Homo sapiens: one gene and its partners. The protein of the gene in region 1 purifies or fractionates together with the protein of each later gene. This does not show direct contact. Each region holds a gene or a part of one and is shown in the gene's direction. Other genes may lie near its edges.

The links.
Region 2: the proteins of LYRM7 (region 1) and ALDH1L1 purify together in Homo sapiens (co-immunoprecipitation; one large-scale study listed by IntAct). This does not show direct contact.
Region 3: the proteins of LYRM7 (region 1) and PC purify together in Homo sapiens (affinity purification with mass spectrometry; one large-scale study listed by BioGRID and IntAct). This does not show direct contact.

The regions. Positions count from the first base shown.
Region 1 is NC_000005.10:131,201,937-131,206,069, forward strand, and holds the end of LYRM7 (complex III assembly factor LYRM7), read left to right. Parts: 3' UTR 1-3,492; downstream 3,493-4,133.
Region 2 is NC_000003.12:126,156,440-126,160,087, reverse strand, and holds part of ALDH1L1 (cytosolic 10-formyltetrahydrofolate dehydrogenase), read left to right. Parts: exon of another isoform or gene 1-5; intron 6-1,448; coding exon 1,449-1,683; intron 1,684-2,579; coding exon 2,580-2,745; intron 2,746-3,648. UniProt on the Homo sapiens protein: Cytosolic 10-formyltetrahydrofolate dehydrogenase that catalyzes the NADP(+)-dependent conversion of 10-formyltetrahydrofolate to tetrahydrofolate and carbon dioxide.
Region 3 is NC_000011.10:66,853,828-66,857,475, reverse strand, and holds part of PC (pyruvate carboxylase, mitochondrial precursor), read left to right. Parts: exon of another isoform or gene 1-412; intron 413-1,188; exon of another isoform or gene 1,189-1,330; intron 1,331-1,518; exon of another isoform or gene 1,519-1,659; coding exon of another isoform or gene 1,660-1,662; intron 1,663-2,342; exon of another isoform or gene 2,343-2,380; coding exon of another isoform or gene 2,381-2,449; intron 2,450-3,648. UniProt on the Homo sapiens protein: Pyruvate carboxylase catalyzes a 2-step reaction, involving the ATP-dependent carboxylation of the covalently attached biotin in the first step and the transfer of the carboxyl group to pyruvate in the second.

The DNA.
Region 1 (4,133 bases):
AGTTATGCCAACTAAGCCTCCCAAATAGCTGAGACTAGAGGTATGCGCCACCACACCTAGCTATTTTTTTTATTTTTAGTAAGGACAAGGTCTCATTATGTTGGCCAGGCTGGTCTCAAATTCCTGAGCTCAGTTGATCCTCCCACCTCAGCCTCCCAAAGTGCTGGGATTACAGGTGTAAGCCACTGCACCCTGCCTATTCTTATAATCATATATTTATATTTCAAATGGATTTTAACTGGTTATTTAATAGTTTAATTAGATAAAGTAATTCATGGCTGGGTGTGGTGGCTCACGCCTGTAATCCCAGCACTTTGGCAGGCTGAGGCAGGTGGATTACCTGAGGTCGGAAGTTCGAGACCAGCCCAACCAACGTGGAGAAACCCCATCTCTATTAAAAATGCAAAATTAGCAGGACATGGTGATACACACCTGTAATCCCAGCTAGTCAGGAGGCTGAGGCAGGAGAATTACTTGAGCCAGGGAAGCAGAGGTTGTGGTGAGCTAAGATTGTGCCACTGCACTCCAGCCTGAGAGAACAAGACTCCGTCTCAAAAAAAGAAAAAAAGAAAACTTTTTTACACATGGGTATCTCACCATGTTGCCCAGGCTGGAGTGCAGTAGCTATTCATAGGCACAGTCATAGCACACTGCAGCCTAGAATTTCTGACCTCAAGCAATCATCCTGCCTCAGCCTCCTAAGTAGCTAGGACTACAGGTGCATACCACCATAACCAGCTTTAATTAAATGTTTTTTATTTGGTTATTTTTTTTAAGTTTTCTGTATTCACACAAGGGGTTGCCCAAATATAATTTTGCTTTGACTATTGAGATCTAGTGAAAGTGGGGTATATGAATTCTAATTGCAAATATCCAGGCTCAGAGGCCCAGCAGGACTTTCTAACACAATCTTTTAGCGGAAGTTAGAAATGGTATATAGCAGGAGAGTCAGATTTGAGAAGCATATGTAGATTCGAAGCTGGGGGAATATGGCAGGTAGTTTGTACAACATCTAATTCAGAACATTAAAATTAAGATTTTAGTCAAACTGTGTTTAAGTTAGTTCTTATTTTCCTGTAGATGCATCTCACAGCATCAGTACAATACCAAAAAAGCACACAAGAATAAGAATATGTGGAATTTCTATACCTATTGACAAAGCACATAATTTAACCATAAACACAAAGCCATAGGTCAACAAAGAAATGAAGATTCCAGTTCTGAAGGTGAGTTTTCTGAAGCCAAAGTGGATACATGCAAAATTAATATAGTTTTACTGTATATCAGTTGTCACCAATCAGAAATGGAAAACAGATCCTATTTATAATTGCAAACAAAACTGTAAAATAGACTTTTTAAAGTCTGGGAATAGACTTCTAAAATAAGCTATAACACTTAAAAAGGAGAGATATACTATGTTCCTAGATAGGACAATTGAAAATTCTGGAGATGACAGTTTTTCAAAAATCTATTGAGGCCAGGTGCAGTGGCCCATGCCTGTAGTTCCAGTACTTTGGGAGGCCTAGGTGGGTGGATCACCTGAGGTTGGGAGTTTGAGACCAGCCTGACCAACATGGAGAAACCCCGTCTCTACTAAAAATACAAAATTAGCCAGGCGTGGTGGTGCATGCCTGTAATCCCAGCTACTCGGGAGGCTGAGGCGTGAGAATCGCTTGAACCCGGTAGGCAGATGTTGCAGTGAGCCGAGATCGCACCATTGCACTCCAGCCTAGGCAACAAGAGCGAAACTCCATCTCAAAAATAGAAAAAACATTTATCGAAATCCCAACAAGTTGACAAATATATCCACATAAAAATATAAAACTTCTGTATTCTGTGAAAGCTACTATAAATAAAGTTTAGAGAAAGTTATTTGCCACCTATGTCATGATTGAAATAGTTAATTGATCCTGTGAATCAGTTAGCAAAACATAACTCAATGGAAAGATAGGCAAATGATACAAATAAGAAATTCACAAAAGAAGAAATACTAAGTCTCTAGTGATGAGAGAAATGTAAATTAAAATGAAACATGTTTGTTCATCAAGTTGTCACAAGTTAGACAATCATATCCAATATTTTTAAAGGTTGTAAGACTATAAGGAAATAGCCACTGTCATATCATTTTTAAAGGAATATAAATTATAGGGCCTTTTGTTTCTTTGGGTTTTTTTTTTTTAGAGACAAGATCTCTCCGTGTTGTCTAGGCTGGACTCAAACTTCTGGACTCAAGCAATCCTCGCAACATCATTAATAGCTGAGAGTAGAGACTTGAGCCACCACACCTGACTATAGGGCCTTTTTGAAAGGAAAATTGACATCATCAAAATTTTAAATATATTCAGTCTATTTCTCAAAAACTCAAAGAATACTAATAAATGTGTACTCAGGTATATGTACAGAAATTGCTGTAACATTATAATTTTAAACAATTTAAAACAGACTGAGTTTCCAAAGTTAGGGTACAATGAAAGAAAAGGTGGCTTATTTATACTCTGGAATATTTTCCAAGAGTTGAAAAGGATGAGGATACACACACACACACACACACACACACACACACACACACACACACACAGTTTGGGTATCCCTAATCCAGAAATTCAAATGCTCCAAAGTCCAAAACTTTCTGACCCACCAACATGACTGATGCTCAAAGGAAATGGCCACTGGAAGATTTCAGATTTTCAGATTTGGAGTGCTCAACCAGTAAGTATATAATGCAAATAATCCAAAATACAAAAAAAAAAAAAAAGAAATCTGAAACACTTCTGATCCCAAGCATTTCAGAAAACGGATGTTCATTTGTGTGTGTGTGTGTGTGTAAGCAGGTGTTGCTAGAAATTCACTTATATACAAGAAAACTTTTTGTGTACATATTTGCATATATATGTACAAATGGGTAGAAACGATACATGATTAATCTTAATCGGGAAGGAAAAGAGATTTAGGGAAGGAAGCAGTAAGTGAGAACTTTTATTCTATTTACTCCTGCACGTTTAAATATTGTTTACAGTGAGTATATCAACATGTAAGTGTTAAAAGACAATAAGCTACTAGTGATTTTTAATATAAAATTAACTATAAAATATTTTAAATATTAGCAAATAATATAGCACACTCATGAACCTAATTCCCACATTTGATAGTTGTTACATTTTGCCATGTTTGTTTAAAGGTCTAAGTCATAAAATCTTATAAAGCTAAACCCCACCCTTCTCTTTCTCCTCTCTCTCCAGGATAATTACTGTTTTATAGTTTGTGGATATCATTCCCTTACTTGTGTTTATACTTTTACCAAGTGTGTATGTATTCAAAAAACAGTTGTTTTGTGATTTTAAAATGTAAATGAATGGCGTTATGCTCCATGTATTCTGCAACTTTTCATCATACATTAGGTTTTGGCGATTTAGCCATAATTTGGCATGAATTCAGGTCTTTTAAGTTTTATTCCATTGTAAGAATAAACAAGTTTGTTCATTCATGTCTCCATTGATGAGTGATAGTATTGTCTCCAGTTTTTTTATGTTGCAAACCAATTTGCAAAAAACTCTGGCACATAGATTTTTACACCCAAGAAAAAGTTTACCTGGACATACACCAAGGAGCAGAACTGTTGAGTCCTAGCGTATGTGCATATTCAGCTTTTCCAGAAATTTCTAAATTGCTCTTTAAAATAGTTGTACCAGTTTACATTCCAATCGACAGTGTGTGAAAGGTCCCATTTCCCCACATCCTCACTGTTATGTATGATTTTTCTCATTGTCAAACTAATGGATATAAAATGGTATATTGTTTTAATTTGCATTTCTTAATTACTGGGGAGGCAGATCATCTTGTCATATGTTTATTGGCCATTATGGTTTCCCATTATGAATGTGTGTCTCTATCTTTTGTCCTCTTTTCTCTGTTGGGTTGTCTGGCTTTTTCTAACCAATCCTTTATATATTCTGGATACTAGTCCTTTGTTAATTATCTTTTTCCAATATGTGGCTTGTCTTTTAGTTTATGATAAACTTGACTGGGCTAAGGGATGCCCATATAGCTGGTAAATATTATTTCTGTGGTGTCTGTGAGGGTGTTTCTAGAAGAGATTAGCATTTCACTTGGTAGTCTCAGTAAAGAATGTCACT
Region 2 (3,648 bases), on another chromosome or scaffold:
CTGGGAACCTCAGCAGACAGGATGCAGGGGCCTCAGCTTGGATGAACAGACCCTCTAGGAACACTGACTGGTCCTTCTCAGGCCTGATGGAGACAGACTGTGGGGCAGGGCTTAAGGATAGAGGGCCAGGATTAGGAAAGGGGGCTTGTAGGCCTGGCCAGGCACAGAGGTGTAGTTTGTTAAGGAAAGCCAGTCTCCCTCAGTGGGGAAGCTGCAGCCTGGCCCTAGAATCAACTCCAACACTCAACACCCAATGCCAGCCAGGCTTCAGTCTTGGACCTGACCACAAGTGACCCATGACATACCCTGACCCCACCACAGCCTGGGTCCTACACCCAGCCACTAAGTGACCACTGACCCCAGCTGCTGACCCTGGACCCAGACCAGGCCTGGCTGGGACTCCTACTTGGCCTTGATCTCAGATGTCCTGAAGCAGTATTTCATTGGTCACTGTGGGACAGCTTTTGCAAGTGCAGTCCAATCTGCTGACATCACATCCCACCCTCTCTCAAAACTACCAGACACCAGGACAGAGTGACAGAGGAGGAGACCGGAGAGGAGAGCCAGTCCAGTCAGGGCCCAAACATCACACCAGAGGCTCTAACAGAGAACTGAATACAAAGAAGTGTTCCTTGGGTATTGAAGAGTGGAAGGCAGAGAGCCCAAAGTTATTGGGGACAGCGACTGCAGGAAGCAGCTGCCACTGTAAGGCTAAGATAAAGGAGGACGCTTTAACTATAAAAACTTGGGAGCTTGGGCCTGTAATCCAGACCTGTGAGGAGGGTGTGCTGGTGACGGGGCAGGAGGAGGGGCCCTGCAGGCTGTATCTGGTCCTCTGGGGTGTGTGTGTGTGTGTGTGTGTGTGCACGCATGTGTGCATATTGAGGCTAGTTCTGCAGATGATGGAAAAACTGATTTAGCCATTGCTCTGAGAAGGAACGACTGTGACTGGGATGAAGAAGCTGGGCTGGGGGAGGCTCACAGGACAGGAACCCACTGGACAGAAAGGAGTGGGGATGCCCTGTTGCCCTTCTTCCCCTTCTTCCTCCATCAGGGAACAGCTGACAAAGCAGAAATGCCATCTGCAGGGGGGCAGTCCCCATCACAGAGTGAGCAGTAGAGGGGGCCGGAAGACAGTAACTCAGTGACGGGGATGGCAAGGCCTCAGGAGAGGAATGAGGGCAGAGGTCAGCCATCTGGGTTCTGGAAGAGGGAGGCACTCAGAGGTCCTGGGGTTCAGCAAAAGTCAGGATGCAGGCAGGGCAGTCCCCAGAGCCTCATGCTTGGCTGGTGCATCCGTCTGTGTTGCCCAGTGGAGCCTGGCTGGGGTGTGGGTGAGGGGGCAGGAATGGAGAGAAGTCCTATGAGCTGCTCTGCTGGGAAGGCAGAGGTGGCTGCGTGTGGGTGGGTTATGGAGAGGGGCCAGTTTCTTATCCACCGTCCCACAGGTCTGGAAGCTGAGAAGGATGGAGTGCCGGTATTCAAGTACTCCCGGTGGCGTGCAAAAGGACAGGCTTTGCCTGATGTGGTGGCAAAATACCAGGCTTTGGGGGCCGAGCTCAACGTCCTGCCCTTCTGCAGCCAATTCATCCCCATGGAGATAATCAGTGCCCCCCGGCATGGCTCCATCATCTATCACCCGTCACTGCTCCCTAGGCACCGAGGGGCCTCGGCCATCAACTGGTGAGATGGGGCAAAAACACAGGGGGCCATCCCCATACATGTCCCTCCATCAGCCTGACTTGTCACTTTCCATTAGCCCAAAGCATTTCTAGGGCTGCAGAGTGGGCATCGTGCAGGTGCCTGTCCTGTGGCTGCCAGATGTCAGCCACAGAACAGGCTGTGCAACGTTATCAATGAGTGAAGGCTCTAGAGCACTGGGAGCAGGTGTTGCTAAGCACTCTGCATTCCCACAGTTATTGGAGAAGCTGGCACTGTCAGTGTTCCCATCCCCCAGCTGAGACAGAGAGGGCACCAGAAGGCGCAGGGACAGAGAGGGCACCAGGAGGCGCAGGGGCCAGGGTGCCACCCCAGGCGGTGGGCTGGGGGTCCTACTCTAACTTCCACTGCCGCTGCTCTGGGCAGCACACTTCGTAGAAAGAGATAAAGATGGAGCAAAGGATGGCCTCCACAAGGTACTCTGAGGGGACAGAATTCCCAAGACAACAAATGGGGTGACAAGGCAGATGGGTGGTCAAAGAGGGAAGACATTTGAGTTGAGAAAAGAGAGTGGATTTGTAGTCGGACTGGTCTGTTGAGATTCAGGCTCTCTGATCTTTGTGGGTGTCGCTTCACTTTTCTGGGCCTTAGTTTCCCTATCTGTAAACCGAGTATACCTGTTATCCCTGCTGTGAGGACTCAGTTACATAAGGCATATAGAGCTTTTAGCACAATTCCTGGCCCATGGTTGTTATCAATACATGCTGTTTTCCTTCTTCCGTTTCCCGCCGGAGCCGGTGTCAGTCCTACCCCTGGGAAGAGAGGGCCTCCTGGAGGGTGGCAGGTCCACGGGCCTGTACCCAGGACATCCTCCGTGGCCCTTCATCGTGGACTCCAGGTTTCACTCTTCTGCTTCCTAGGACCCTCATTCACGGAGATAAGAAAGGGGGGTTTTCCATCTTCTGGGCGGATGATGGTCTGGACACCGGAGACCTGCTGCTGCAGAAGGAGTGTGAGGTGCTCCCGGACGACACCGTGAGCACGCTGTACAACCGCTTCCTCTTCCCTGAAGGCATCAAAGGGATGGTGAGGACCTGGAGCCGGCCGCGCCCTGCCCGCCCCGACGCACCCTCAAGCATCCTCCCTAGACCCAGCCCACCGCTCCTGGAGGCCAGGAATCTGTTCCCCAAATTCAGGATTCTGGAGGGAGAGGAGCTCTCACTTCAAGGTTTCAGAGGCAGGATTAGGACAAACAGTGTATTGTATTAGGAGGGAATCTTGCTCACAACGGACAGAACCCAGCTCAAAAAGCGTTTGGCAAAAAGGGGACATTTTGGGGCCCGTTCAATAGACAAGGAAGGCTAAAGGCAGGGACTGGGTCACACCCTGCTGAATCCAGGAGCTTCAATTATGACATCGTTAGGATTCTATTTCTCTCTCCTTCACTCGTTGATTCTCCTTTTCTCTGTGTGATTTGTTTCATTCTCAGTTTGGCTGCCCTGAATTAGAGGAAAGATAGCCACTATAGCTCAAGGATTCTAATTCTTGATTCCAGGGAAAGAGAAACACTTTTTCTCCTAGAATTCATCAATCACAAATCAGGGGAGATTCTGATTGGCCAGCTTGGGGGTCATGTGATCCTCATGAGCCAATCACCAGCTGGGGTGATGGAGTGCTCTGATAGGCTGTCTCCGTCACATGCTTCCTGCTGGGAAGGCCGTGACCTGTGGTCACATGGCCTGAGCGGCAGGGCGGCTCAGTCACCTGGGCAGCTGGTACTGCTGAGAGGCAGGGTGGCAGGCTATGGGCCGGAGCCCACAGCTGCAGGAGGGGCCCGGGGATCATATGTGAGGGCTGCTTGCCCCTGCCCGAGGACAGGCTGGCAGGGACGGCCACAGGCAGAGGTGCTGTCCAGGCATGCAGCAGGAGGGAAGGAGGCCCTGGGGAGCCCTTGCTGTTTGGGCGCAGCAGGAAGAGCAGCTGCAGTGT
Region 3 (3,648 bases), on another chromosome or scaffold:
AGGACCGAGAGCAGGGAGGGTCCCGGAACTTCCTTTCCCAGGCGTCCCCAGGAATCGCCAGCCGCCTCCCCACTCCCCGCCATACCCTCCCCCGCCAGAGAAGGCGCCCCCCGAACCTCCCGTGGAGTCCGTGGCCCCTCCCTGGCCGGCCCCCGCGCTGCGCCCGGCGGCCCCCTCACCTGGTGTCCGTCGCTCAGGGGGCGCGGGCCGGCCTCCCTGCGAGCCCGGCCGGCCCCCGCCGACTCCTGGCCGCTCTCCCGCGGGGACGAGGCCCGGGGATGACCGGCCGCCCGCCGCCCACCCTCGGGCCCATGGCGCTCGGGCCCGCGGCCCCGGCTCGCTCGGTTCCCGGCACCTTTTCCCGGCGCGGTTAGCGGTGGCGGCGGCGACAGGCGAGCGGGTGCGCGCCGGCGGGCGCGCGCGCCGCGGACACGCACGTGGAGGGCGGACGGGGAGGGGCGCGCGGGGATCCACCCGGGCCCGGGCCGGCTCCTGAGGTCACGGGGACACGCGGCCGCTGCAGCGCCCACGGGTGGCGCCCAGTCACGCCCGAGGCCCGGGCCGGCGCGGGCCCTCCGCGCTGTCCCCCGGCGCTGCCGCAGCGCACTCACCCTGGCACAGGCGCGCGCGCCCCCGGCCATCCTGGCGCCCCGGCATCCTGCACCGCACGGGCGCCCGCCGCCGCGGCGCGAACCTCACTCTGCAGACAGCCAGACAAAGCGCCTGCTCGCGGGCCCCTTCACCATCTCCCGGAGACGGGCGTCTTTGTCACATGTCGCTGGGCACCCTCCCCAACACACCCACACATGCCCACACACCCACACGTCCCTGCACCCACGGGCAGGGCCGAGCGCAAACCCGCACTGTTGCTGGGACCCTTGCGTTCACAGACACACGCTGAAGGTCATAACCGTTCTGCATCACCGAGTCACGTGGAGGGTCCCCAACCGGCACGGGGTTCGGCCGTGGGGGGGGCTGGGGCGGCGCCCCTGGCAGGGCTGCTGCGGGGTGGGGCCGAGAGGGCTTGGCCTCCGGGCAGGCGCCCCGCCCCCGCCGCCCCGCCCTGTCCCCAGCTGCCTCTCGCCTCTCCCTCCCTCCCCAGCTGCCCCGCCCGCCCCGCGGGCCAGGCGTTCCGGAGCCAACCGGCCTCCGCCTCGGGCCGGATTGGTCTGCGCGGCGCGGCTTCCCAACCGCCGGGGGCACGCATTGGGAAGCTGTGCGTCCTCGCAGCGCCTGCGGCCCCTCCCTCCCGCTCTGTCGCCGCCGGGCCATTTCCCTGGAAGAGCGGCTCGGAACCAGCTCCTCTCAGAGAAAGGGCTCCCGGCGTGAGGTGGGGGAGGTTCTTTGCTTCCTGGTTGAGAAAGCTGGGGCTTCGGTGGCTCGGCGAGCCTGGTTTCCTTCCAGCTGTGCCCGCCACCACCAGTGGTCTGCCCAGTTGGGAAACAGGAAGTCACCACCTCCCCGTGTCTCCTGGTCCTTAAGCCACCTAAACCTCAGCCATCCTCGTTCTCCCTCCAGCCCTGATCCCCATGGGCCAGGTGGCAGGAAACTCGGGGAAACCCAAGATTGGAATTCTGATCCTGTCAGCACAGCAGTGTAGTCCTGGGCACGTTACCTGACCACTGAAAACAAGTTCCTCCTGTAGGCCAGGAGAGTTGGATGGTACATACATAAGCATTTCCTAGGGGCGAGAGGGGAGGACAGCTGCAGCTTGTGAGGGGCTTACAGGCAGCCAGAAGCCATTCTGTCACCACTCACTGGGCCTCAGCTGTGGCGTTTGTAAAATGAGGGGGATTCAGTCCTGGTGCAGGTCAACTCTGATGTGCAGTGGCACCAGCTATGTCTTTGTTCCTCTTCTCCCCATCAAAAATGTTTTCCACCGGGTGCAGTGGTTCATGCCTGTAATCCCAGCAGTTTGGGAGGCCGAGGCGGGTGGATCACTTGAGGCCAGGAGTTCCAGACCAGCCTGGCAAACATGGCGAAACCCCATCTCTATTAAAAATACAAAAATTAGCCGGGCGTGGTACCGCATGTCTGTTGGGATGAGGCACGAGAATCGCATTAACCAGGGAGCCACAGGTTGCAGTGAGCTGAGATTGTGCCACTGAATTCCAGCCTGGGCGACACACTTTGTCTCAAAAAAAAAGTTTTCATTCACTCTAAATATAGATGTTTACCAGCATCCACCATGGCCACCCAGTGCTGGGAGCCGGGTTCATCAGGAACCAGATGGGCCTGGTTCCTGCCCCCATAGAGCTTACAGTATGGAGGAGAGGATGGGCAACCCGACAGTCACAAAGGGGAGACTCAGTGGGGACCCTCCACATGACTCGGTGATGCAGAACGGTTATGACCTTCAGCGTGTGTCTGTGAACACAAGGGTCCCAGCAACAGTGTGGGTCTGCGCTCAGCCCTGCCCGTGCAGGTTCCTCAGCGGCCTGCTGGAAAGGTGAGCATCAGCTCTGCCGAGGGTGTGAGGACAGGGCGAAGGCCTCCAAGGGTCCTTCTCACTCTGCGCGCTCGGGGCTCTTTGGATGGTTTCATTAGCTGCCTCCCTTCTCCAGTGCCATGCCTTGGCCCAGCTGAAATGTCAGCATCTCTTCAGGAGAGGCAGGGGCGAGGCTCAGGGGCAGACAGGCACAGCACTGCTGGCGGGGTCCCACTCTGTGGTGAGCACCTGACAGGCTGGTGGGGGAGGCACCCTTCCTGTCCAGGCCTCCAGGTAATAGGAGCCTAAGAGACGGAGAGCTCAGAGGAGTCTGGGTGGCCTTGAGTCCCTGTTGAAGGTGCCGACAGGGATCATGAATAAGTGACGCGTGGAGGTGTTTTCTTCGCGGTGGAAGCCAGGGCTGTCGCTACACAGCCACAGGCCATGCTTTCACAGGTCTTGGAGCACCTGTCACAGTGCTGGCTCGCATGTCCCCGTTTAAGTCATACTCACCCTGGCCCAGCCTCATGTTGTCACCCAGGCATTTAATGAGTGGAACCGAGGGCCCCTGTGCACAAAGTGCACTGACACATGCCTCAGGCAGCACCCTGCCCCCAAGGGTTCCCAGGCAGACAAGCAGAGGATGAAGCCGATGGGTGTGCTTGCCCACAGCGGGTTCCTCAGGGGACTGCTGGAAAGGTGAGTGTCAGCTCTGCCGAGGGTGTGAGGACAGGGCGAAGGCCCTTGAGAAGTTCAGGGAGAGCTTCCCAGGCAGGTGCAAAGGTGTGGAGCGCAAGGCAAGTTTGATGTGGCTGGAGGTGGCCACAATGAGGAAGGCGGTGGAGGGTGTGGCCTGGAGATGGAGAAGAGGTCACAAGGTCCCAAAATGGCCGTGGTCGAATCCTCTGGCTTGACCAGTGGCATGGGAGGAGTGGGTGATGAGGGTGATGGGATGCAGGTTTTGGTAACTGGGGGGACAGTGGGGCACCCACTGGGCACAGGAGGACTGGGTGCATAGGCAGGAAGCTGGCCGTGGACTTGCTGAACTTATGCGAGGGGTGAACAAGGAAAGGCCCGGGAGGCAGTTGCACCTCTGGGTCTTGCCCTGGAGGCAGAGCCTGTCACTGGCGCCACAGCCCCGGGACGGGGCCTCCTGGGGAGCATGTGGTGTGTGAGGAGCTGGGGAGGAAGAGGACAGGAGAGCAAGATGGCTTGGAAGC